5 separate regions of the Homo sapiens genome follow, and regions 1, 2, 4 and 5 are each linked to region 3. The links come from fine-mapping of genetic effects on gene expression. A gene starts in region 3. Each other region holds a variant in brackets. All regions are shown on one strand. Distances are between the middles of the regions.

Region 1 (5,105 bases), 48 kb after region 3:
GTACAGTGGTACAATCTTGGCTCACTGCAACCTCTGCCTCACAGGTTCAAGCAATGCTCTTGCCTCAGCCTCCCAAGTAGCTGGGATTACAGTCATGTGCCACCATGCCCAGCTAATTTTTGTATTTTTAGTAGAGATGGGGTTTTGCCACGTTGGCCAGGCTGGTCTCAAGCTCCTGACCTTGTGATCTGCCCGCCTGGGCCTCCCAAAGTGCTGTGATTACAGGCTTGAGCCAATGTGCCCAGCCCCCAAATCGATACTTAATACATGAAGTATGTAAATGTCATTCTCATGTATAAAGAACGTGGTAATATAATATTATATCACATACTGCCATTAAAGGCATTTCATTTTATAATACTGGCTTCAGAACTCAATCCCCAGTTTGAATAGTAATCTTTTTCAATTTGTGTGAAATAATTTGGTGTCTGATATATAGACACAAAAACTTTGCAATTTTTACTTTTTTTTTTTTTTTTTTTTGAGACAGAGTCTTGCTCTGTCACCCAGGCTGGGGTGCAGTGGTGCGATTTTGGCTCACTGCCATCTCTGCCTTCCCAGTTCAATCACATCTCCTGCCTCAGCCTCCCGAGTAGCTGGGATTACAGGCACACGCCACCATGCCTGGCTAATTTTTGTATTTTTTTTTAAGGAGACACAGGGTTTCACCATGTTGGCCAGGCTAGTCTCAAACTCTTGACCTTGTGATCCACCCACCTCGGCCTCCCAAAGTGCTGGGATTACAGGCGTGAGCCACCTCACCCAGCCCTGCAATTTTTACTTTTTAAAAAATGACTTGTCCAGGTGTGGTGGCTCATACCTGTAATCCCAACACTTTGGAAGTCTGAGGCAGGAGGATCACTTGAGGCCAGACGTTTGAGACCAGCCTGGGCAACACAGTGAGACCCTATCTGTATAGAAATTTAAGAATAAAATTAGCTGGATGTGGTGCTGCATACCTGTAGTCCCAGCTACTCAGGAGGCTGAGGTGGGAGGGTTTCTTAAGCCTTGGATTTCGAGGCCTTAGTGAGTCGTGATCGCATCACGGCTGTCCAGCTTGGGCAAAAGAACGAGACTCTGTCTCAAAAAACAACTCTCAAAATGCAAAACTACTATATACCATTCACCCATTGTAAATGTATTATGTGATGATTTTGGTAAATTTCTACAGTTGTGCCCCCGTCACCACAATACAATTTAAAAACATTTCCATGCCTCCAAAAGATCCCTCCTGCCCATTTGTCGTTACTCTGCTCCCATCCTCAGCCCCAGACAAACACTCATCTGTCTGTTTCTATCTGCCTTTTCTAGACATTTCATAAAAATGGAATTATACGGTATAAAGTCTGTAGTCTCTTGCATCTGGCTTCTTTAACTTAGCATAAGGTTTCTGAAGTTAATCCATGTCGTTGTGTGTATCTGTACTTCATTCCTTTTTGTTGCTAAATAGCATTCCATATTATGGACAGAGCACACTTTTTTTTTGTTTTTTGTTTTGAGATAGAGCCTTGCTGTGCTACCCAAGCTGGAGTGCAGTAGCTCGATCTCTGTTCACTGCAACCTCCGCCTCCTGGGTTCAAATGATTCTCGTGCCTCAGCCTCCTGAGTAGCTGGGATTACAGGTGCATGCCACCACACCCAGCTAATTTTTGTATTTTTAGTAGAGACAAGGTCTCACTATGTTGCCCAGGCTGGTCTCGAACTCCTGACCTCAAGCCATCTACTCACCTCAGTCTCCCAAAGTGCCGGGATTACAGGCATGAGCCACGGTGTCCGGCCTACAGAGCACACTCACTTCATTCAGCAGTTGATGGGCATTTGGATTATTTCCACTTTTTGCCTGTTTATAGAGCAGTTATTGCCACTTTTTGCTTGTTTATAGAGCAATGCTACCATAAACATTTGTGTACAAGTATTTTATGGACATATGTTTTCATTTCTCTTGAGTCTTTACCTAGGAGTGGAATTGCTGGGTTGTATGGCAAATTTGTGTTTAACTTTTTAAGAAATTACCAAATTGCTTTTCAAAGTGGCTGTACTGTTTTACATTCCCACCATCAATTTATGAGCATTCCAGGTTTACTATATCCTCACCAATACTTGTTGTTACCCGTCTTTTTTGTATCCATTTGAATGGATAGGAAGTGGTATCTTGTTGTGGTCTTGATTTGTGATTCTCCAGTAGTTAATGATATTAAACATGTTTGTGCTAATTAGTTATTTGTATATCTTCTTTAGTAAAATGTCTACTTAAATCTTTTACCCATCCTGAAATTTGGATTGTCTTTATGTTATTTGTTGTTTATGTATGATTTACAAATGTTTTCTTCTGGTTGGTGGCTGGAATCCAGTCTCTTTCATTTTCCTAATGGTGACTTTTGAAGCACAGGTTTTATTTTTGAAGTCCAATTTATACATTTTTTTCTTTTATGACTCATAGTTTAGTGT[C/CT]TTTTTTTTTTTTTTTTTTTGAGATGGAGTCTCACTCTGTCACTCAGGCTGGAGTACAGTGGTGCAATCTGGGCTCACTGAAACCTCCACCTACCAGGTTCAAGTGATTCTCCTGTCTCAGCCTCCAGAGTAGCTGGGATTACAGGAGCACACCACCACACCCAGCTAATTTTTTATATTTCAGTAGAGACGGGTTTTCACCACATGGCCCAGGCTGGTCACGATCTCTTGAGCTCAGGCAATCCACCCGCCTCGGCCTCCCAAAGTGCTAGGATTACAGGTGTGAGCCACCAAGCCCGGCCTTTAGTGTCATATTTAAGAGCTTTTTGCCTAACAAATTTGCAAAGGTTTTCTTCTGTTTTTCTTCTAGTAGTTTTATTGTTTTAGCTCTTATATCTTGGTCTGTGGTCGAATTTGAGTATATTTTTGTCTGTGGTGTAAAGCAAGGTCTAAATCTATCTTTTTTGCATGTGGATATCCGATTTTGTGTTTCTCATTAAATTTGTTCCCAAGTATTTTAATCTTTTTGATGCTATTGTGAATGGAATTGTTTTATTTATTTTAATTTTGGTTGTTCATTGCAAGTACATGGAAATAGAATGAGTTTTTTTGTAGTGATCTTGTATCCAGTGATCTTCCTGAATTAGTTTATCAGTTCTAGTAAGGTATGTCTGCATGTGTGTGTGTGTTTGTGTGTGTGTGTGTATTCCTTAGAATTTTTTATGTATTGAATCCTATCTGAATAAAAAGAGTTTTACTTCTTTGTTTCCAGTCTGGTGTCTTTTATTTCCTTTCAGTTTTTACTTTTCACTTTAATTTCTTAAATGTTTTTTAAGTTGGTCTCAAACATATTTAGCATGATATCAAAGAACATTTACCTAGAAATAATACATAAATTATATTTGACATTTAGGGCCAAGGCATAAGAAATGTACTTGCTGTGGGCTTTGAAAGCAAAGTGTATGTTTCATTATAAAAAGAATACATTGATAAAAACAGAAACTACTACCTCTAAAAGTTAAAAAAAAAAAAAATCTGAGCAGTTTCTATAATAATAAAGATGGATGTAGATAGACCACAGATGCTTATTTTAAAAATTTGGTAATTATTAAAAAAAACCCCAAAATACTAAAAAACAAACTAAAACATTTTAGGATCACTTTTTTGTCAGTTTCAATGAATAAACTTGCCACTCGATTTCATCATTTGTAAAATTATTGCTTGACATGTTTAATATCTAAAATATAACATAGATGGTTAAAAGCTGAAAACATGTATAAGTCAGCAGCTTTGGATTCAAAAGTTGAGGTTAAATTACAGCAAATAGAGCCGTCTTGCATAAGGTTGTAGAGAGGGAACTGTTATCCTGGGAACCAACTTCAACTTTGTTTTCCTCTGTGTTCCTACCTTTGTTTGGAAGTGTTTGTTTCTGTCACAGTGAAGGGCCTCCCCTGACAGATCCCCTGATTGACAGTGACACAGTCAGTTCCCACCCTGCCTTATCTGTAAGAGTTCTCTAGCCAGAGCAACCACAGCCTCAGAGAAGAAAAACCTGGGGCCCTATTCAATTCTGCATCCATTATCCATGCCTTTGTGGAGACTTTTCCTGAGGGAAAGAGTTAAAGAGGCACGTAAACTTTCAAACAGCAGAGACCAACAGTGGACTAAGCACAGCGAATTGGATTTTCTGTTGAAGAGGCAGTGCAGTGGCCGGGTTCAGGCAGTAACGGGAGCCTGGGGGACTTAGGGTCACAGCCTCTGCACAGTTTCAACTTGGGTTTCCTAATAAAAATGCTGCCCAGAGAGGAAAGACACTAGGGTAGAGGAAAAGCTGTTTCTTACAAACCTACTGGCAAGTCCGTCTTCTTTTCAGCTGACTTCATCACCTGTGTTGGACTAAACAAGTCTGGGCATCAGCTCCTGGTGCTGGAGTCTGCCTGGGCTGGGAGCCGCCACATGCCCCCGCAGTGCAGCCTCTGCAGCTCTGAACATTTGGGACATCTGAGCATTTTGGGTTAAAAAGGATAAAAAGAGGAGAAAAAGGCTAAACCAGTTCTATGGGAAAATTTGGTTGTCTTCTTTTTTTTTTTTTAAACCCAGCTTAGTAGGGCTGGTTTTCCTTCTTAAAATTATCATTCAAGTTCAAAGACCAGCCATAATTATCATCGCCCCACCCAAAAAAAAATTCAGAAAAGCTACATTTTACTGGAAAAGCACAATCCTTTAATATCTACTAATCACTAGAAACTATAGGAGCACTGATTTGCCAGCTAGCAAATGTATTATCTTTTTTTTAATGTTATTTATTTATTTTTTGAGACGGGTCTCATTCTGTGGCCCAGGCTGGAATGCAGTGGTACACTCTCAGCTCACTGCAGCCTCAACCTCCTGGGCTCAAGCAGTCCTCCTGCCTCAGCCTCCCGAGTAGCTAGGACTACAGGCACAGGCATGCGCCAACATGCCTGGCTAATTTTTGTATTTTTTGTAGAGATAAGGATTTGCCATGTTGCCCAGGCTGATCTTGGACTCCTGGGCTCAAGAGATCCACCCACCTCAGCCTCCCAAAGTGTCGGGATTATAGGTGTGAGCCACTGTGCTCGGCCATCTATTATCTGCTAAATTTTTACTGCTTAATTTTCCCAGAGCTCTTCTGAGTG
Region 2 (5,105 bases), 37 kb before region 3:
AAGGAAAAAGGAAGGTGGGAGAGCTCTAAAATGAGAAGGTAACAGTTTGATTAACTGTTACCAGTTTAATTAGCTGATGAGTGGCATGAATGTACAACTTCCGTTTTGAACGTGGCTCATATCTCCTGTGTTCCTATCCCAGCTCTATCACTTTCTTGCTGAGTGACCTTGAGCAAGTTGCTTGACCCCTCTGAGACTCTTTCCTCACCTATAAAATACAGATAATCAGAGTACGTATGTCACAGGGTTGTTGTGAAAATGAAATGACATTAGCACAGAGCCTGGCATATTTACTTTTCATTTAGCAAATTGGTTAAGCTCCTACTATGTGCCAGTAAGTGCTGAAGATGCAACAGTGAACAAAACAGACAAAAGTCTCTGCCCCTATGGAGTTTATATGTCCATGTGCATTAGCCTGCATTTCCCAGAAAGCAGAACATGAAGCTAAGGCTTATGTATTGCTCTTTTACAAGTGGGGGTACTCAGATGCCTCCAGCATCTACAGCTAAGAACACTTTCAGGCAAATACAGTTCTGCTGATCATCCCTAGGAGGACAATCATGTTATAGAACCAACAGGTTTGTATGTCCACTGTGCAGTAACAGACCAATTACACTGAGACAGCAAGGTTTGCAACAGAGAAAAAGATCCATGATCATAGGGCACTGAGTGAGGAGATGGGAGGAGACCCTCAAATCCGTCTCCCCAAGGAGTTATGGGCTGGGTTTTTTAAGGGGATCATGGAGGGTGAGGGACTTCAGAATTGGGGCTGTTGATTGATCAGGGAAAGGGGGCTGAAATCATCAGGATGTGAAAACTGCATTCTTCGGCAGTCAGATTCTCATTGGGTCCTTCAGATTGGCTAGTGTTATAGTCTTATTAGTATGCAGGACCTGAAGGACTATCTCAAAAAGAAAACTTACTGTTTTGTAGTGTTCAGTTTTTTATCTATAGAGCAGTTAAGGGGAGCTATAATCTTGTAACAGAGTCTACGTGATTGTAGGACAATAGGCACCACACAAATATGAGGAAGCAGGTCAGAGAGCGGGCTGACTTAATGATTAATGCTGAATGTGCTACAAGCTTGTTTCATTTTCATTTCTCCTCCTCCCTTTTTTCCTGATTAATTTAATAAAGTTCATAGGGGAGGCTTCAAACACATGAGAAATTAAAACCTTTATTACCAGAGTCAGAGCCTGACTATATTGATTGAGTGAAGCTTTCCTTTATAAAATGCAAAGCATGTAAACAATTCCAACACAGTAACATATTCATGAGTTTTTAAATTCATGAGTTTTAGAGAAAATATTTTACTTAAAACCAGCACTTGATGATCTCTGACAATGTTATGTAGCCTGAACCTGGAGTTTTGGCTGATGGGTTGTCTCAGCCTGTGACAGGTTTTAGCTGGCTTTGGTTCATCTTGTATCACACCCCCACACTCACATGCTCACACACTGTCTTAGTCAGCTCGGGCTGCCATCACAAAATACCATAGACTGGGAGGCTCAAATAACAGAAACTTATTTCTCACAGATCTGGAGGCTGGGAAGTCCAAGGTCAAGGTGCCAGCAGACTCAGTTCCCCAGTGAGGGCTCTCTTCCTGTCTTGCAGGTGTCCACCTTCTTACTGTGTCCTATGGCAGAGAGAGAGAGACTGAGAGAGAGAGAGGGATAGGAAGAGAGAGAGAGAGAGAGAGAAAGAGAGAGAGAGAGAGAGTGCACATTGCCCTGGTCTCTTCATCTTCTTAGAAGAACACGGATCCCATCATGGGAACCTGGCCCCCATGACTTCATCTAAACCTAATTACTTCCCAAATGTTCCCATTTCCAAAAACATCACATTGGGGGTTACAGCTTTAACATGAATTTTAGGGAGACAGAAACATTCGGTCCATAATACATGCCCTGTGATATACCCCCATAAAATAAATACACTGAGTGGCTGTTGGGTTTGTCTTCAGGTGGAAGGGTCTGATCCTCTGAGCTTCCAGATAGGGTTCTTGAATGATCCACACCACATCTGCTTCAGTGTTGTCCAAGAAGCTGGCACAAAAGTACAGACTCTCAGGCCCCACCCTGGACATTTCAAGTTAGGGTCTCTGGGGCTGGGGCCAGGAATCTGCATTTTGAACCAGTCCTTCCTTCTCCCACTTGCCTGCCCAGAAGATTCTAGCAGCTCCCAAAGCTTGAGAACCACTGCTCTGTACCTCTGCATCCTCTGGAGATTTTCCAAAACTCGTGTGTCTTCTTAAATCAGTTGTTTTTATAATGACTATGACACAT[A/G]AAGCCATGTGATATAACAAAGGCTGAGCTGGATGCAGAAAGGGCCTTCTGACTACAGCAGGCTTTGGAATGTGGATTTAATGAGCTACTACTTTGGTGAGTAGAGAAAGGGGGAATAAAATCCCAGTGGGTCAGGATTTTTAAAATTGAATTTCTGTTGGAAAGGATAGGGAGAGAAGGGCATTGCTTCCCTAAAAACTAAAATCCTTTCTTTTCTTTTTTCTTATTTGTTTTTTTTTTTTTGATGGAGTCTTGCTCTGTCACCCAGGCTGGAGTGCAGTGGTGCAACCTCGGCTCACTGCAACCTCTGCCTCCCAGGTTCAAGCAATTCTCCTGCCTCAGCCTCCTGAGTAGCTGGGATTACAGGCACCCGCCACCACACCCGGCTAAGTTTTGTATTTTTAGTAGAGTCGGGTTTCACCATGTTGGTCAGGCTGGTCTTGAACTCCTGACCTCATGATCCGCCCACCTCAGCCTCCCAAAGTGCTAGGATTACAGGCATGAGTCACTGCGCTCAGCCAAAGCCCTTTCTTGATCATATAAATGACTCTAGTGTCTTCGTGCTTGGTGACTGCTTTCTGTACCCTGCTACAGATGATGCTGCCTGTTTGTGAAACAGGACTGATACAACTCTTCTGGAAGGAACTCTTTAATATCTAAATATCAAAACTGTTAATCATTATTATTAGTAATTCATTATTAATATGTTAATAGCTCAAGTACTACAATTAACTATTCAACTATTCAGCCCTAGTTTTCCTTTTTTAAATTTATTTTTCCAATAGCAGTGTTGTTTGAATGCCAACTTCAGATTTTAGTCTCCTTTCGACTTAGGTGATTGTGAATCTATAAATTCTTAACAAGAAGCAAATGTGTAGAATCTGTAATGCTTAGATTTTGTTATTGGAGCTATAGAAAATGTTACATTTATGGTGTCAGACTCTATTTAGCTGGTAAGGACAAAGCAAGAGCTAAGGCCAATTACTTGTCATCATCATCATCATCATCATCGTCATATTTCTGGAGCATTCACTATTTACCGGGCACTGAGCCAACATTGTATATTCATCATAGCATTTGGTTCTCATAGCAGCTCTATGAGGTTTGTGCCCACATTATCCCCATTTTGCAGATAAAAAAGCCAAGCCCCAGAAAGGTTAAGTAAATTATTCAAGGTCCACAGCCAGTGTGTGGCAGAACCAGATTCTGAAATCAGGCAGTCCAATTCCAGAGTTCCAATTCCTAACCATTGTGCTATTCAGTCTAATGAAAGGAGCGAAAGATTCAAGGTAGACAACTGTATATTGTCAAAGGCATGTTCAACACCAGGGTTGCTTGTTTCTAAATAATGTTCAAGTCCATGAACAGCTTTTTGCTAATGTTTGGAGCAACTGATAAAATATATCAAGCAAAGAAAAGTGTGGACACATCCATGCACACTGGAGAAGTAGCAGAGTGGTTTAATTTTGTGTTGGAGAATCAAAGGCCAGAATGAAAAGGCACTTTTTACATCCCAAAGGAAAATTCCCATTCAGAAAGACATTGATGGCTTTTTTAGCGGCATCCATTCATCTGCTCTGCAAAGGCATGGGGTCATGTGATTTTGAGAGTACTGACTCTACTCCCAATGCATGGCAGTCATGTATAATAATTTAGGGGACAGTGATTCCATTCACAGTTCCAGAGGTAAACCCCCCTCCAATTGACTAAACCCAATCAGAAAATCCTACTCTTGCATAGGATTGTTTCAGAGATAGGCACAAATCTCATCCTAAGCCAATCAGAGCACGGCACTTCCGTCGGCCATGGTGATTGATTCAGAGATGGGCATGTGACTGGTTTGCTCAGTTAGAGTGAAACCTAGGATTTTGTTTGGTAATTGAGATAAAGACACTTTTCTTCAGGAAGATGTGGTGTACGGAACTGTTCCAGACATTTTGTCACCATGATAAAAGTGAGTCTGAAAAGTAAACCATCATGTTCAGGAAGGCAAAATCAACAGAACTGCAGAGCAATGGAGTCAGCACCCTGATCAAGCCATTCCTGAAACTAGTGTTGACCCATTTTTATTTACATGAATCAATAAATTCCTTTCACTGTTCACATTATTTTAAGCTGGGGTTCTGTTTCTTTCAACTAAAAGCATTCTAGTTGGTACATCAAGCATTATGCTTGTCATTTAAATACAAGTAGGTTCTAATGGGGAGATCTGCTCTCATTGTGAGAACACCTTAAAATGGACTCAGCACTTGGGATCAATCTTTAAAAACAAACAAATTAAGTCTAACTACACACTATGTTAATGAGAAATGGGTGTTTTACTCAAAGTGTTATGGAAACACTGGGGAGAGAATTTACATGACATATGAAAAAGCAAAACTTAATAAGATTCCTCATCACCCATCCCCATAGGACTTCTGTGATGACACCTCTTTTGCCTTTCCTTTTCCTTTTGCTTTTCTCCCTGAACCTTCTAGCGTCTCCTTAGTCACTGCACTCTCATCCTCTATTAATGTTCTGCGTGCTGCAACATGCAAAGAAATAAAACAACGGCATCAGTTTAAAAAAAAAAAAAAGGAGGGCCTCTGTCCCTCTAGCCTGTTCCCAATCCCAACCCAAGGATCTTCCCAGAGAGTAGTTCAGCTGCTGAGTAATATTTCCATATGGTTATCTACTGTGTTCTAGAAATACACAAGGAATGCTCTTGGGCTCTTGTGCGATCCTCTCATCTTTGCAGCCACTCCCACAAGAAAGAGGACAAATCATTACCTCATTAAGTGAAACTTGAGCTTTACCCAGCTCCAACTCCCTCCCTTGGGG
Region 3 (5,105 bases):
AGCCCCAAGTCATTTAAATCCTCTGGGGGTGGGAGACATAATTATTTGCAAGGGAGCATTATTAGCTAAGTACAAATGGGTTGCTATTTGTTTTTTCTGTTCTTTGTGATGATTACAGGCTGGGGATGGTGTTTAGTAACAGGATCCAGCAGGTCAGTTATGACAACTTCATCATCACTGTCATTAACCCCTTTTGTTTGCAGTGAACACAAAAAGCTGTTCAGTATCAAGAGAGTCAAGAAAAAGGGAAAGAAGAGGGGGTGGAGAAAGTGAGACAACCAAAGAGACAGCCAGGGAACAGAAATTCATACACTATGAACACCAGAAAAAAATACCCCTGGGTAATTGAGTCAGCTGACTCAAATGGTGTAGGGGCCTCAGTTAGAGGACCAAATTTTGGACTCCTTGGTCTTTCTGCCAAAAGAGTAATTGCTCATGTTTATAGATGCAAATGTTTTTGCCATTTTGGTTCCTAGAAATGCCCTAGGGAGATGTTATTTTTGGTAAGGGGTCTTCCTGCTTCAAGTGTAATGACTGTGAACAACTAGTTTCAGTATCTTCTCTAGCATGCCAGGGTAAAATGAAGCAAAATAAATAGAGGAAGTGCCATGACCTTTATTGAGGATCTACTGGGTGCCAGGCAAAATGCTTTTTTTTTTTTTTTTTTTTTTTTTGAGACAGGGTCTTGCTCTCTTGCCCAGGCTGGAGTGCAGCAGTGCAATCTTGGCTGACGGCAAGCTCTGCCTCCCGGGTTCCTGCCATTCTCCTGCCTCAGCCTCCCAGGTAGCTGGGACTACAGGCGCCCGCCACCACGCCCAGCTTATTTTGTTTTTGTATTTTTAGTAGAGATACAGTTTCATCGTGTTAGCCAGGATGGTCTCCATCTCCTGACCTTGTGATCCACCCACCTCAGCCTCCCAAAGTACTGGGATTACAGGTGTGAGCCACTGTGCCTGCCCAGTGCTGCGATCTCGACTCACTGCAGCTTTCGCTTCCTGGGTTCAAGCGATTCTTCTGCCTCAGCCTCCTGAGTAGCTGGGATTACAGGCGTGCACCACCATACCTGGCTAATTTTTGTATTTTTAATAGAGACATTATTTTTAATGTATTTTTCCTGTTGGCCAGGCTGGTCTTGAACTCCTGGCCTCAAGCGATACACCTGCCTCAGCCTCCCAAAGTGCTGGGATTACAGGTGTGAGCCCCACGCCCGACAAGGTGCATTTTTATGTGCTTTTTCTCCTCTGTCTTCTCAACAACCCTGGGGTAAAAGGCCTCATTTCCACTTTTCCTATGAGAACAATAAAGTAGAAAGAGGTAAAAGACTGCCTCTAAGATCACCCAGCACAGAGCAGGGATTTGATTTCAGGTGTGTCTTGTTCCAAACTTAATATACTGTGCTGCTGGGGGAAAACAAAGAGCAAAAGGTTCTTAACTGAAGTCAAAGACGACCAAGAAAATGTAGGCAGATGTCAGGTCTGATCATGTGGATGCTCAAATGATAAACAGACACATTGAGAGAAATTGTATTAATTAAATCATAAAAATATGTTCCGCTTTTTGGGGAATTTACTCCTCCTCCTGGGGTGACCCTTGACAAGACATTCTGTCTTCCTGTTTTTAAGCAAAAAAAAAAAAAAAAAGTGGGTAGAAGATGAAAGTTTGATATTTCGCTCATGCATAGCTTTGTCTCCTTAATATATTTTGTGCTTGCCTGTCATTTCAGCTTTCTGCTGGCAGACGAAGCTCCTTCAACTGCCATTCCTACTTCTGACACTCCTCTTGTCCTTTTCAGGACAACTTTATGCCTATTGTGCCTTGGGTCTTGAGAAGCATGTGGTAAAACTGGCCAGTGGTGATGGCAGGCATAGCAGGGAATCAGATTGAGGGGGGCTGTGGCGTGGGAGAGAAAACAAAAGAGGGAAACAGGCTATTTGATGACAGAATCAGGCTGCTTCTGCAATGACATTACATGAAATATCTGAAATTTGACCTTAACTGTATCTGGTGGGTCCCGTTAACCCTGTAAGTTATGGACAGAACGTTCACTCAAATTCTAGCAACGTCTAGGCTCATGGAAATACGTGACCAATTCAGGTGAATGAAAGGGATTTTAAAACATTAATTTCCAGCTTAGGTCTTCCTAAGACTGCCTGCGTGTCCCTTACCACCACTCCAGCCTGAGTGTCACATGGATCCTGAATGCGGACTTGTGTGCACACTGTAGAAAAATAAGCAACTGAAAACCCCAGGCATCGGGGTGGAGTGATGATGAAAGACACCGAGACCGAAGATCAGGAAGCTGGAAATTCCCCCCAGCTTCGGTGTTTGGGCTGTATCTCGCTTTTCCACTTCCCTAAATCACCCTCGTGGTGCGAGTGTGCTCGCAGCAGATGCTCCCTAATTGTCTCTTGTATTGACCGTAAAACCCTAACGACAGGAATACTCTCTCTCCTTCTATTTCTCAACACCATTTCAACACCCAAACTAAAACCTCTCACCTGAGTGTAAGGGAGTGGTGACCTTCTTAAGCGGAGAGCTCTTCCATCAGAGGGCTCCCTAAGGGCATCTCTGTTCCTAGCCGGGGAGCCGTCACCCCACTTTGTTCTGCTTAGCCTAAGACACGCAACTTTTTCCAGCTTTTACTCTTCGCTGAATTCTCACGGTGGGGTTGGGGGGATGTTCAGGCTCAGGAGCGAGGTTGGGGGCCCGGCCCGCTGGGCGCTGTTCACCGGTAGCCCGGACCAGAGCAGGAGTTTCATCATTACCTGCTGGGATAGGTGGGACACATGTATTTCCGGGGCCACCCCAGACCTCCCGGAGGATGCTGATTGACACTGTCCAGTTTGAGAACTACTGTGTCCAGGGAGCAGAGGCCTCCCCATAACCCCTTGGGTTGTGGACGTCTGGCCCAGGGCTTCTCTGGGTGAGCGGGGCGGGCATCAGAGCGCGTGGAACCTGGGGCGGGAGGTCGGGGCAGTGAAGGAGGAGGAGAAGGAGGAGGCGGAGACCGAGGGGGAGGGAGGGGAGGAGGAAGAGGAGGAGGAGTCCCTCGTGGCCACCCCGAGGGGAGGGCGACCGTAGAGACTTGGTCGGGAGGCGCCGGCCCAGCGAGGCCGCTGGGACTGTGCACTGAGGGGCGCTGACCGTTGGACGCGCGCTCCCCGCAGACCCTCGCTGAAGGAGCAGGGGGCGGCGCGCGTGCGCGGGGCGCCGGGCGGCGCGCGAGGGGGCGGAGCGGGGAGGCGTGCTGCGACCCCGGCCGGCTACAGCCTGCGGCGCGCGCAGAGCGCTAGTGGGGCGCGCGGCGCGCGCGCGGGGCGGGGGCGCGCGGAGGGGGGGGCTGCCCCGGGGCGGCCCCCCCAGGTCGGGGCGCGGCGGGCGGCGGCGGCGGGCGCGCGTCCCGTCCAGGTCCGGAGTAACCGCCGCCGCCGCCGCCAAAGCTCGCCAACATGGCGGACCTGGAGGCTGTGCTGGCCGATGTCAGTTACCTGATGGCCATGGAGAAGAGCAAGGCGACCCCGGCCGCCCGCGCCAGCAAGAGGATCGTCCTGCCGGAGCCCAGGTACCAGCTGCCCCGGCCGGCGCCGGCCCCAAGCCGCCGCCCCCTGCGGCCGCCAGCTACCCCCTGCTTCCTGGAGGGTCGGGCGCTGAGCCTCCGCTGCCCCGGGGCGGGTGACACAGCGGAGCGGGCGATGCGGGGCCGGCCTCGTCGTTCCAGTCTCTGAAATGGGGCATCGGAGGGCCGGTGGGGGGCACCCCGGGAGAGAGCGCTCCAAAGTGCCCGGCGCGGCGCCCTGCGCGCAGCGAGCGCCCCAGCCAGGGTCTGGTTATGACTTGGCTGGACCAGCTCCATCCCTGTCGCCCCCTCCCCCCAGCCCTGTCCTGTCCTGCCCTGTCCCATCCCCGTGGTTCTTCCTGTTGCATTGGTGTAGTCCCCGTTGGCTCCTTGCCTGTCACTGCTTTGCGCTCCATCCTGGTCGCTCCTTCTTCCCGGGCTCATTGGTCCCCCTTTCCAACTCCATCCTCTCACCTCCCTCTGGGCCGCTTACCTGGGGACTGCAGGCTTGTTGCTTATTGTCCGAGGTAGTTAAACTGCTGTTTTCAGTACTTGCTCTTCTTGAAGTCTATTAAGTCTAGTCACCTTCTTCGGCTTCTCTTCTATTTTGTCCCCGGGCAGGATTTTGACCCACTCAGTATTCTTTTTGGTGCCAAGTGTGTCACCTGAGCTGCTTTCCTCAACTTGTAGATCTACTGGTGGCACTTTATTAAAAAATTGAAACAGGAGTCACTTAAAAAGACACTTGAATGGGTGATTCCAGACAGGAATTTGTTGTTAAATTATCAAAGGAGGGCCCGATTGAATTGGCGAGGGGCTCGGTGAGGTGCATACCAAGTTGCAATTTTCTCTCAAATGATTTATTATTAAGGTACTAGTAAAATTTTTTCTAGTTCATATCATTAGCACTTCCCCAGAAAAAATAGTTTGTCTGGTTAATAGTGAGTTTTAAATAACGTATCAAGGCTTCAGTGATGGATTTTTTTTTCTCTAGCTCCTTTCCTAATTAACACCATCATGAGTTGTACAGCTAATGTGATTCCTTGATGCTAAATAGCTCTTGGAATTGATGCTCAAAAGAGGCATCTTGTTTATGGTGAATTTGAAACCATGCAATTCTGTAAAATATTGGAATCTAAACCAAAGTTATTGTCCATTTGAAATCATCAGTCCTTCAAGCGTTAGGCGCCCAAGATTGCTTAAATGTTACCTAATGCTAAGTGATCATCATCTGATTTTTTTTACAAGTCATCCATGAGCCCTATGATACAGAAAATACCAGTCCCCTTGTTATTTGTTGTGAAAAGCTAAATTGTGCAAATGAAGACATGCTTGCTAGGTATTTTGAGCTTGCTTTTCCTCCTTAGCCCATGCCTCTTGTTGGTTTTGCAGGATGTGCTACTCTTTGATAGACAATGCCAAGTAGTGAAAATGAGGGAAAAGTGCAAACCTTTCTGCAATGTCGTGAGTTTAACACCCCTATTCCAGAGTGTAGCATATCTGAAGCTAATTGAAAAAAATCAATGCTGCTTAAAATTTCCGGCAAATG
Region 4 (5,105 bases), 130 kb before region 3:
TCATCTCAGAGACCCTAGAACCTGTCTGCCATACCACGTGCTCTGCCACCCTGCTCACCACCCAAAAATTCCTTCCATTCTGCCGCATGGCTGGGCCCTGCACTGGGCCAGGCCTTCATGGCGGGCAGGGGACAAGGGAGGGAGGGGGTCTGGGCCCTGAATGGGACACAGACAGTGGCCACCTGGTAAAGAAGACTGAATGAGCAGAGGATGCGGGTAGGCAGGTCCAGGGCAGGGCCCTGCAGGGTGCACAAGAGTTCTCTGGGGTGGATGGTAGACCAGGGCTGTGAACACGCACGCTGGGCTGGGCCAGCAGGCTAACATGTCCTAAGCCCCAGAGCTCTGCAGAGGGGCAGGAACAGGGCCCAGAGGGAGCAAGGCCGAGAATAAAGGCCCTGAATGCCTCAGATCTGGCCAGATCTGCTAAAGACAGTTGCGTCCTGTGTTGAAACGCTATTGAGTGGCCTTACTGTCCCTGTACCATTTATAAAATATGGGACACGTGTTATCCGGCTGAGCCACTCAGGGATTCTGTGGGGCCCACAGCCAGAATCACGGTCCCATTTCATAGGTAGGATAACTGAGGCCCGGAGCAGTTAAATCCCAAAGAGTGAGGCAGAGCCAGCTCAGGGGTGTCCTGACTTTCAGCCCAGGGCCTCCCATCTGACAAATGGGGAAATCGAGATCAGGAGAGGAAGGGGCCTGCCCAAGCTCACATGGGAGCACACCTGTATGGAACACACTTGTATGGAGGGCGCCTGTATGGAGCACTGCCCTCTGCCAGGCACGAGATATGCTCAGGTGGGGTGACCTCCCTTTACCATTCCCCAGCTCTGACCCCATTTCGGGGATGCAGAAAAGAGGCCTCAGAGCAGAGTAAGGCCGAGTCAGGGCTACAGAGTCCGATGGCCACCCCTCCCCTGAACGGCTAGGAGGAGGGAGGGCAGCTGGCAAAGGCCTGCAGGAGCCCAGAGCGTGTTCTTCCAAGTGGAGCCTCTGCTGTGGGAGCCCCAGCCACGGGGTCAGACAGAAAAGGGGTCCCGCCCAAGCTCAGCCCTCAGCAGCCCTTGACCTCAGGCAGTTTGACTCCCTTCAATGGGCTTCAGTTTCCTCCTCTGTACAGGGGGGTGATAACAGTCTCTCCCCACAGGTTGGTTTTGGGGATTAAATGAGAATGCCTAGGGAGTGCCAGGCCCACGGGGACCCTCACCTACCCACAGCCATTGCTGTTATCTCCTGGGTTCTTGCCTGGGCCTGTGGGTGACACACTGTGTGATCCTGGGCAAGTGCCTTTCCCTCCCTGGGCCCAGCCTTTGCTCTGGTCAAGGAAAAGCTGGGTCAGGGACCCTGAGGACCAGCCATTCAGGAAACCAGTAGCTTCCTGGGTGAAGGAGTTGGCCAGGGAGGCCTGGAGGGGCAGCGTGGTCTGAGGTGAGAGTAGGGTGGGGGCCAGGCCAAGGGATGGGGGTGGGGGATTCACCTTCCCAGCTCTGGTGGCCCTGCCTGCAGCTGGCTGACCTTGGGAATCCCCAGGCTAAGGTTAATCTTAACACTGACCTAAACCAGAACTCAGGGTGACAAGGGAAAAAACTAAGGCAAGGAGAAGCCAAGGCTGCCGCGTGGGATGTGGGACAGGAGAAAAACAAGACAGATGTGGCCAGGGAGAGGGGGAGCGTATTTCAGGGCTGCACTGGGTGTTCATGCAGCTCACAGGTGAGGGTGGAACAGCCCTCTCCCTACATCCCACCTGCTCCCAGCCCCAGCCCCCCACCAGGCCTGATGCTGCCCCCTGGCTGCCTTCCCACACCCTGAGCTCCACCTTGGGTCCTGGAGCTCTGGAGGACCTGGCTTCAAGGGATCTTACCTACCCCTTCCAGGACCCTCTTTGACTAAGGAAAAGCTGTGGCCTCCCAGAGATGCAGCCTTTTCCCAAGTCTCCAGACTCTTCATCCCATCTCATCCCCAGCTTAGTGCCTGGCGCATACACGGCTCCCAACCAACAGTTTATCTGTGTATTTATGTACTTCTCTTTCTTTTTTCTTTTTTTTTTTTTTGAGACAGGGTCTCCTTCTGTCACCCAGGCTGGAGTGCAGTAGTGTGATCATGGCTCACTGCAGCCTTGACCTCCAGGGCTCAATAGATGCCCTGGCCTTAGCTTCCTGAGTGGCCGCATAGCTGCACCTATAGGTGACCGGCTAATTTTAGGTTTTGTTTTGTTGTGTTGTGTTGTAGAGACTGGGTTTCACCATGTTGCCCAGGCTGGTCTCAAACTTCTGGGTTCACACACTTCACCTGCCTTGGCCTCCCAAATTCTGGAATTATAGATGTAAGCCACTGTGTCCTGCCAACAGTTTAAATGAGGGAGGGATGGAAGGAGGGAGGAAGGAAAGAGGGAAGGAGGCAAGGAATGAAGGAAAAGAGAGATGGGTCTGTCAATGAAAGTTATTACAAGAGACAAAGAAGGACATTATATATTGATAAATAAGTTACTTCATCAAGAAGATGTAACAATTAGTACATGTGCGTCTAACCACAGAGCCCCCAAGTATAGGAAGTAATGACTGATGGAATTGAAGAGAGAAACAGACAGCTTCGCAATAATAGTTGCAATACTATACTGTCAATACTGGCTAGAACAATGAGACAGAAGATCAATAAAGAAGTAGAGAACTTGAAAAACTATAAATCAGCTAGACCTGACAACATCTACAACAGACTCACAGAATACAGATTCTTCTCCAGCACACATGGAGTGTTCTCTGGAATATACCTTGTATTAGACCATGAAACAAATCTCATTAATTTAAAAGCACTAAAATCAAAATATCTTTTCTGCGAGAGAAAAAGGTAGAAATAAGAAAGGAAATCTGAATTCAGGAATATGTAAAGATTAAACACACTCCTAAACAATCAATGAATCAAAGCAGAAATTACAAGTGATGTTCGAAAATTCTTTGAGATAAATGAAAATGGAAACAAAGCACACCAAACTTGTAGGAGGCTGTGAGACCAGTGCTCAGAAGAAAATGTAGAGTGGGGAGGTCACGGTGGGAAGATGGCATGAGGCCAGGAGTTTAAACCAGCCTGGGCGACAAAATGAGACCCCTTTGCACAAA[C/CAAAAAT]AAAAATAAACAGGTGGGTGCCATGTACCTGTGGTCACAACTACTTGCGAAGCTGAGGTGGGAGGGTTCTTGAGTCCAGTAGATCAAGGCTACAGTGAGCTGTGATCGTGTCACCACACACCAGCCTGGATGCAAGACTCTGTCGGAAGGGGAAGGGGAAGGGGACAACCTTTGAACTGCAACCCTGAGGTTGGACCTGGGGAGAACTGGCCTCACAGGAAAGAGAAGAGGTGCTAGATGGAATCAGACTCTCAGAAGAGACAGAAAGGAGATGAAGGTAAACAGGGAAAATGACTAGGACCCACTGTGCAAGACTCTGTGCAGCAAAAATGACGTAATGGGATAATGAAGGGACAGTTTCTATTTCCTACAGAGCAGGAGTGCCCCTGAGAGCTCGAGTGAGAGGACAGGCTGTGGGTTCCTGGGATTTCAAACATTTGGAGCGGGAATGCAGGGATGTAAGATGATGTGTTTTCCAGTCCCCTGGCCAGCAATGATGCTTCTCAGTTATGAACATCCCCCATGGACACTCCTAGGGTCTTCCTGTCTGAGGCAACTTGTCCTCTCAGTTCCTCCTCCCTAGATCTCTTTAGAATTATTTCCTGGGTTAGGGTTTCCTGAGAGTGGAGGAGAAGGAGCTATGGATGTCCCCCTTCCTCCCTCACCATGGTTGGAAGTCTGGCCAAGGCCACTTCATTAAGGGACAGGGGACCTTTCCTATCTCCTCAGGGGCAGCCTCCTGAGTTGGTCTGACCCCCAGATTTAACCGGAACACACTAGAACTTTCCACACCAGAACTTTCCACACCATCTGCACATGGAAAATGTGTGTCTGTTCATTGATTTATGAAGACACCTAGAAAGATTAGCTATAAACAACGTGTTTATTTCATTTTAGGATACATTTTCAGAGGCAACTAGGTAGAAAGGTGAACTTTCCCATCACTTAGACCTCAAGTCAGCAGCTCATGCAGCAGTGATTGCTCGGGTGACTCTGAGTGACCTGTTCTACCTCTAGAGCTGACGTTTCTGTTCTGGTTAGGCTAAATGGAGGAAATAAAAATTCTCCAAACATTTCATTAAGATTCACTGGGAAACAGTACCCTGAGTGCTTAGAGCTGCACTCCTCACACAGAAGACACAGTAAGGGTTAGGGAACCTTCTCAGGGGATGAATACACACGAACTTTCACCACAGCGACCAAGAGCTTATATTGGGAGTCTGATTCCGGCCTCTAGGGAAGCTGGAAAATCCAAAACCAATCTCATTAAACTATTTCATCTACTCATAGGAGGAGGTCCAGCTCTTATAAAACTGCCAACCCTTCCTTCTCTCCCTCTCCTCACCCTCCACCCACAGGACAGGGCCGGGCACACGGAGGAGGGACACTGAGGACCTGGGTGGTGGAGACCCTGGCTTTCCTCTCTTCTCACCCATGGTGGGCTCTGCTTATCCTCATCTTTTCTTCCCCAGTTAGGGTTTCCTGGGAGGCTGTGAGTTGTCTGGGGACCTCATCAACATTTGCACAAATGCCCCAGACTCTGCTCACCTCTTTCAAAGGGGCTCCTCCCTCTGAGCCTGCAATGTCTGTGTGATTGGGAGGTGTCACCTCCAGGCCCTGAAACCACAGCACCCGCAGGGTCTCTGGCCCCAGTCTGAGGTTTCTCTACAAGCTTTGGAGATGAATGAAGCCTCTGTTTTAACAGGAATAGATCGGTTTATCAAAGCATGTAAAGGCCAGATGTTCGTTTCTATGTTAGGGATCCTGAAGAGTTGTTTCAGAGTGGATGAATGACTGTCACATCCTCAGTGGCCCTGCCACTCTGACAGATGAGTAGTCACTTGTCATACATCTTGTTCACTTGAACTTCAACGACTGAAAATACAAACAATTAGCCAGGCGTGGTGGTGGGCGCCTGTAGTCCCAGCTACTTGGGAGGCTGAGGCAGGAGAATGGCATGAACCCAGGAGGTGGAGCTTGCAGTGAGCC
Region 5 (5,105 bases), 44 kb before region 3:
GTCACATGGAAGAACTCCTACATGCCTGTGCAATGTTGACAATCAGATTGTCTCATTTTCTTTTTTTTCTTTTTTCTTTCTTTTTTTTTTTTTTTGAGATGAAGTCTCGCTCTGTCGCCCAGGCTGGAGTGCAGTGGCGCGATCTCGGCTCATGGCAAGCTCTGCCTCCCGGGTTCACGCCATTCTCCCGCCTCAGCCTCCCGAGTGGCTGGGAGGCTGGGACTACAGGTGCCCGCCGCCACGCCTGGCTAATTTTTTGTATTTTTAATAGAGACGGGGTTTCACCATGTTATCCAGCATGGTCTCGATCTCCTGAACTCGTGATCCACCCACCTCGGCCTCCCAAAGTGCTGGGATTACAAGCGTGAGCCACCGCGCCTGGCCGAGTTTGTCTCATTTTCTAGCCTTGTGCATACGCCTCCCTACCTGGATTACTTGTCATCATGGAATGAAGCTTCTACATTCTAATGTCCTTCAGGCTCTAGACCCGGAGGTTGGATAAGGTTCCCTTGTTCTGTAATACAAACTGTCCTGGGAAAGATGGAAAAGCCACATCCGGTGTTGTTGGCAAACAAACCATGGAGACCTCACCTTGATGTTGATCCTACATGACCTTTCTGTTCCAGGGGCATTCAGATGATGTTATGGGAGACGCTTTGAAGATCAGATGCTAGGTCTTAGAAGAAAGACCATCTGTAAAGAATCCTTTGCTTTCTCGCCTAGCATATCAGTAGATCGATCTATTAATCTATCTATCTGTGTATCTATCTATCTATCTATCTATCTATCTATCTATCTATCTATCTATCATCTATTTACCTACCTACCTACCTACATATCCGTCCTGTCTATATCTATCATCTTTCTATCCATCTATCTATCTGTCTCTATGTATCCATCTGTCTCTATCTTTATCTTGCTAGCTAGCTATCGTTCTTTTATATTGCTTCATTTAATCAATCAAGCATTCATTTGGCATGTTCTATGTACTGAGAAGAACTGTGTTCACAGGTTGTGGATTCAATGATAGATGGTCTATTTTTGAATCCACAACCTATGGATTTGAAGAAAGATAGTCTTTAGGAAGCATGTTTACATGGGATATAAATGTATGCTTAATACTCAGAGAGACCCAGATTCAAATCCCAGCTCTGCTACCTACTTGCTGAGTGACCTTGGATAAATTGCTGCCCTACACCACCCACCAGGCCTCTGTTTGCTTATATAGAAAGAAAGTTAGTCCTTACTTTGTGAGACTGCTGTAAAGGTTCAATGACATGGTGAATAGAAAGTACTTGATGTAGGCCTGGCATGGTGGCTCATGCCTGTAATCCCAGGACTTTGGGAGGCCCAGGTGGGTGGATCACCTGAGGTCAGGAGTTCCAGACCAGCCTGGCCAACATGGTGAAACCCCGTCTTTACTAAAAATACAAAAAATTAGCTGGGCATGGTGGCAGGCCCCTGTAATCCCAGCTACTCAGGAGGCTGAGGCAGGAGAATTGCTTGAACCTGGGAGGTGGAGGTTGCAGTGAGCTGAGATTGTGCCACTGCACTCCAGCCTAGGGAACAAGAGCAAAACTCCATCTCAAAAAAAAAAGTGCTTGGTGTAAAATCTGGTGCATAGTATGTGCACAATAAATCTCAGCTTTGCTTGCTTGCTTGGTTGATTGATTTTGTCTGTACTGTACTAAACTTAGTTTGGGGACTAAATATACAAATACAAATCATACATATATACCCATTGTTTTTAGGAGCCTACGTCTTCTGGGAAAAGCAGGTGTGTTTGGTAATTAGAAGTGTTTGATAATACCCAGGGAGGTATTTATAAGCACTGTGGGTGTCTAGTGTGCTGGGCCTAAATCAGCCTGAAAAATAAGAGGTATCATCTGTGGATTTTCAAGTCCTTTATCCCATTTAACCCCCTAGAGAACCCTGAGAGGTTGGAAATATTGCCCCATTTCAACAGAAGGCCCAGAAAAATCAAGGCACAGTGGCCAGCATTCTCTGCTGCACCTGGAAGGTACTAGACACCCTGAGGCATCCTTGCTAGCGTACTCCTCATGGGTGAGGCCTAAGCTGTGGCCACTGCAGAGGTCCAGATACTTCCAGGAAGGTCTGATTGTCAGTGAGGCAGTCTCTGTGTGCAGCCAGGAATCTCTGAGTGCAAAGGACAGAGGAATAGAAATCTAGCAGGACAGGCTTGGCTCCAATCCCACATCTCAGGGCCAGAGAGCAGAAGAGATTCTGAATGGAGTGAGATGACCATCTCTGGTCTCTTACTTAGGCCCAGTCCACAGGCTCATGTCTGGGGCCCCGGGGGAGTGAGGGCAGCAAAGAAGAACAGACAATGGGCTCCACGCAGACCTCTGCAACACACTGGAGCCTGAGCCCAATGCTGCACGACCCATCAACTACAAGAAGGAGGGAGAAGGTGTATGACCCCCCCTACACCCGCAACTCTCCCATGATCTCCATGGAGACCCAAAGATATACACTGCAGCACCCAGCAAAGA[T/C]GTGGTACTTGGTAAGGACAGTGGTACCCACCTGTTCCACAGGGAACATACTAATCATGTCTGAGATAGCCCCTGAGATGGGCTTGAATACCCGGCTGTGGAGAAGTTATAAGAGCTGAGGTCCTATGGAGCCAAGAGGCAGTCAAGTTGGTATTTATTTATGCATTTACAACTATTAATGGGGCACCTTTTATGCCCACAGACTGCTGAGGCCCGGATTAAGCTAGCACAAGAGTTTGATAAGAGGACAACTAACCCTGTGCTTTGAAAATCCAATTCACATTTCTTGAGTATGACTATGTCCTAGGCAGTGGGGATATAAAGGAGAATAACATAACACCATCTATTGGAGACACCAATGAGAAAACCAGAATTGTAGTTCAACGCAATAAAGGCTATGCTGGTAATACTTGTGATAATCCCTGAACCAACTGGTATGGCCAATCATAGGCATGAGATCTCAGCTAGTCCAGTCAGAGTGAATCTCAGAGCTCTTTACTGTCTAAAAAGCTTGTTCTTTTTTCTTCTAGGTGTTGGAGTGTGGATATGAGTCATGGAACTCTGGGGCTATGTTGCTGCCAGGTAAGAATCTGTTCTAGGAAGGATAAAATCAATGGACATAGAAAGGCAGACTGGAGAAGGGAAAGGGAGCTGAGCCCTGCTGATAGAGTAAACCTCTGGATTAAACTATGCCTGAAGCCCACATTCCTGTTTGACTTTTCATTTATATAAGCTGTATTACTCAGGGTTCTCCAAAGAAACAGAAACAAGCAGAAATACATATATTTCTTTATAGAGAGTTATATAGAAAGAGATTTATTATGAGCGATTGGCTCATGTGACTATGGAGACTGAGATGTCCCATGCTCTGCTGTCTGCAAGCTGGAGGCCCAGGAAAGCGGGTGGTGTAGTTCGACAATCTGAAGTTGAAGGCCCCAAAACCAGGGGTGCCAATGGTGTAAGTCCCACTTTGAGTACAAAGGCTTGAGAGCCAGAATCACTGATGTTCGAGGGCAGAAGAAGACAGATGTCCCAGCTCAAGCAGAGAGAAAATTCTCCCTTTCTCTGACTTTTTCGTCTATTCAGGCCCTCAATGGATTGGATGGTGTCCACCTGCATAATTGAAGGTGGATCTTCTTTACTCAGTCGACTGATTCAAATGCTGATCTCTTCCAGCAACACCCTCACAGACACACCAGAAATAATGTTTTACCAGCTATCTGTGTATCCCTTAGCCCAGTAAAACTGACACATACAATTAACTATCACATAAGCCAATACTCTTTATTGTTTAAGGCCATTCGAAGTGGGTTTGTCACAACTTGCAATTGACAGCATCTTACAACACAGTAAAGACAGAGTGGAAGATTCAGGTCCTTAAAGGCTATAAAATGCCTTGAGTACTCATTTAACAAATTGCAACTCTTTCTTCAAAGTCATGGGGGACTTCTTGAAGCAAAGGGTGGGGTAAATGATCAGGTTCTTGTATTTTAAATATCTTGCTGGCTCCAATGTGGAAGCTGGATTGAAGTAGGGCAATAGCGAACAAGAGGAGCAATATGGGACTCAGGGGAAGTTTAACAATTGCCTAAGTAATGAGTGTAATATGGTATCCTGAATGAAACCATGGACCAGAAAAAGGACATTAGGTAAAAACTAAAGAAATCTGAAAAGTACAGACTGTAGTTAACAACTGTTTTAGTCCATTTTGTGTTGCTATAACACAATACCACAGACTGGGTAATTTATAAAGAAAAGAAATGTATTTGCTCATGATTCTGCAGGCTGGAAAGTCCAAGAGCATGGCACCAGTATCTGGCAAGGACCTTTGTGCTGTGTCATCCCATGGCAAAAGGTGGAAGAGTAAGCGAGCATGTGAGAAAAAGGAAATCAGGCTGAACTCATCCTTTTGTCAGGAGCCCACTCCTGCAATAGCTAACCTACCTCCCCCATGACAGCATTAATCCATTTATGAAGACAAAGTCCTCATGATCAAATCACCTCTTAAGTGGTCCCACCTCTTAATACCATCACAATGGCAATGAAATTTCAACATTAGTTTTGGAGGGGACATCCAAACTATAGCAATAATGATGTATGAATATTAGTTCATTAATTGTAAATAGTGTATCATCTGAATGTAAGATGTTAACAATAGGGGAAACTGGGTGTGTGGTTTGTTGGAGCACTCTGCACTACCTTTGCAATTTTTCAGTAAATCTAAGACTATTCTAAAACAAAAAGGTTATTTTAAATTACCTTTAAAAAGCAGCTAAAAATGTTTTGGTTTCAATGTCTTTATGCTTTCATGTCTATTCCTTTATTGATCTGCAAGTATTTATTGAGCACCTACTCTATGCCAGACTGTGGGCTGCGTCCAGGGAATGAGCTAATATCTTGCTTCGGCTCAGGAAAACATTAATGGTTTTATCTTCTATCTTATTCACATGACTATGAGGTCCACAAGTCAATGGCCCAAAACTCTGGCTGGCGTCCCTGTCCCAGCCTTGCCAGTGACTGTTAACTATGACTTCACCTCTCTTGGCCTCTATTTCTTCCTATGTCATTTACAAAGACTTGTGCCTGCTTCAC

Alleles and levels. Positions count from the first base shown, and alleles are read on the strand shown. Sizes are in standard deviations (SD) of each study's normalised expression. Not every link is listed here.
For the expression in neutrophils of the gene that starts at base 3,084 in region 3, CT is the high allele of the variant in region 1 and C is the other (large effect, 1.5 SD a copy in BLUEPRINT).
With allele G in place of A in region 2, the expression in esophagus mucosa of the gene that starts at base 3,084 in region 3 is lower (small effect, 0.19 SD a copy in GTEx).
In carriers of allele C in region 5, the expression in fibroblasts of the gene that starts at base 3,084 in region 3 tends to be lower than with T alone (small effect, 0.35 SD a copy in GTEx).

The links. PIP is the estimated chance that this variant, and not a neighbour inherited with it, causes the effect. A credible set is the group of variants that fine-mapping cannot tell apart.
Region 1: its variant is the best candidate, but not a certain one, in a credible set for the expression of GRK3 in neutrophils (BLUEPRINT, PIP 0.52).
Region 2: its variant is the best candidate, but not a certain one, in a credible set for the expression of GRK3 in esophagus mucosa (GTEx, PIP 0.86).
Region 4: its variant is the best candidate, but not a certain one, in a credible set for the expression of GRK3 in fibroblasts (GTEx, PIP 0.59).
Region 5: its variant is the best candidate, but not a certain one, in a credible set for the expression of GRK3 in fibroblasts (GTEx, PIP 0.69).

The regions. Positions count from the first base shown.
Region 1 is chr22:25,609,383-25,614,487 of GRCh38, forward strand. The region is part of intron 2 of GRK3 (G protein-coupled receptor kinase 3); the gene reads left to right. Among named protein-coding and RNA genes, the nearest start is that of GRK3-AS1, 47 kb to the left of the region's middle. The variant C/CT (reference allele first, on the strand shown) is at 2,449.
Region 2 is chr22:25,524,958-25,530,062 of GRCh38, forward strand. No RefSeq gene overlaps it. Among named protein-coding and RNA genes, the nearest start is that of GRK3, 37 kb to the right of the region's middle. The variant A/G (reference allele first, on the strand shown) is at 2,286.
Region 3 is chr22:25,561,592-25,566,696 of GRCh38, forward strand. GRK3 (G protein-coupled receptor kinase 3) reads left to right here and starts at 3,084. Exons shown (of 21, transcript NM_005160.4): 1 at 3,084-3,562. The coding sequence starts at 3,450. It overlaps GRK3-AS1 (GRK3 antisense RNA 1), which reads right to left and starts at 3,825. Exons shown (of 4, transcript NR_183564.1): 1 at 3,489-3,825; 2 at 2,499-2,768; 3 at 1,712-1,890. RefSeq lists silencers at 3,010-3,109, 3,420-3,669 and an enhancer at 3,781-4,296.
Region 4 is chr22:25,430,344-25,435,448 of GRCh38, forward strand. No RefSeq gene overlaps it. Among named protein-coding and RNA genes, the nearest start is that of MIR6817, 23 kb to the right of the region's middle. RefSeq lists an enhancer at 632-1,132. The variant C/CAAAAAT (reference allele first, on the strand shown) is at 3,117.
Region 5 is chr22:25,517,639-25,522,743 of GRCh38, forward strand. No RefSeq gene overlaps it. Among named protein-coding and RNA genes, the nearest start is that of GRK3, 44 kb to the right of the region's middle. The variant T/C (reference allele first, on the strand shown) is at 2,514.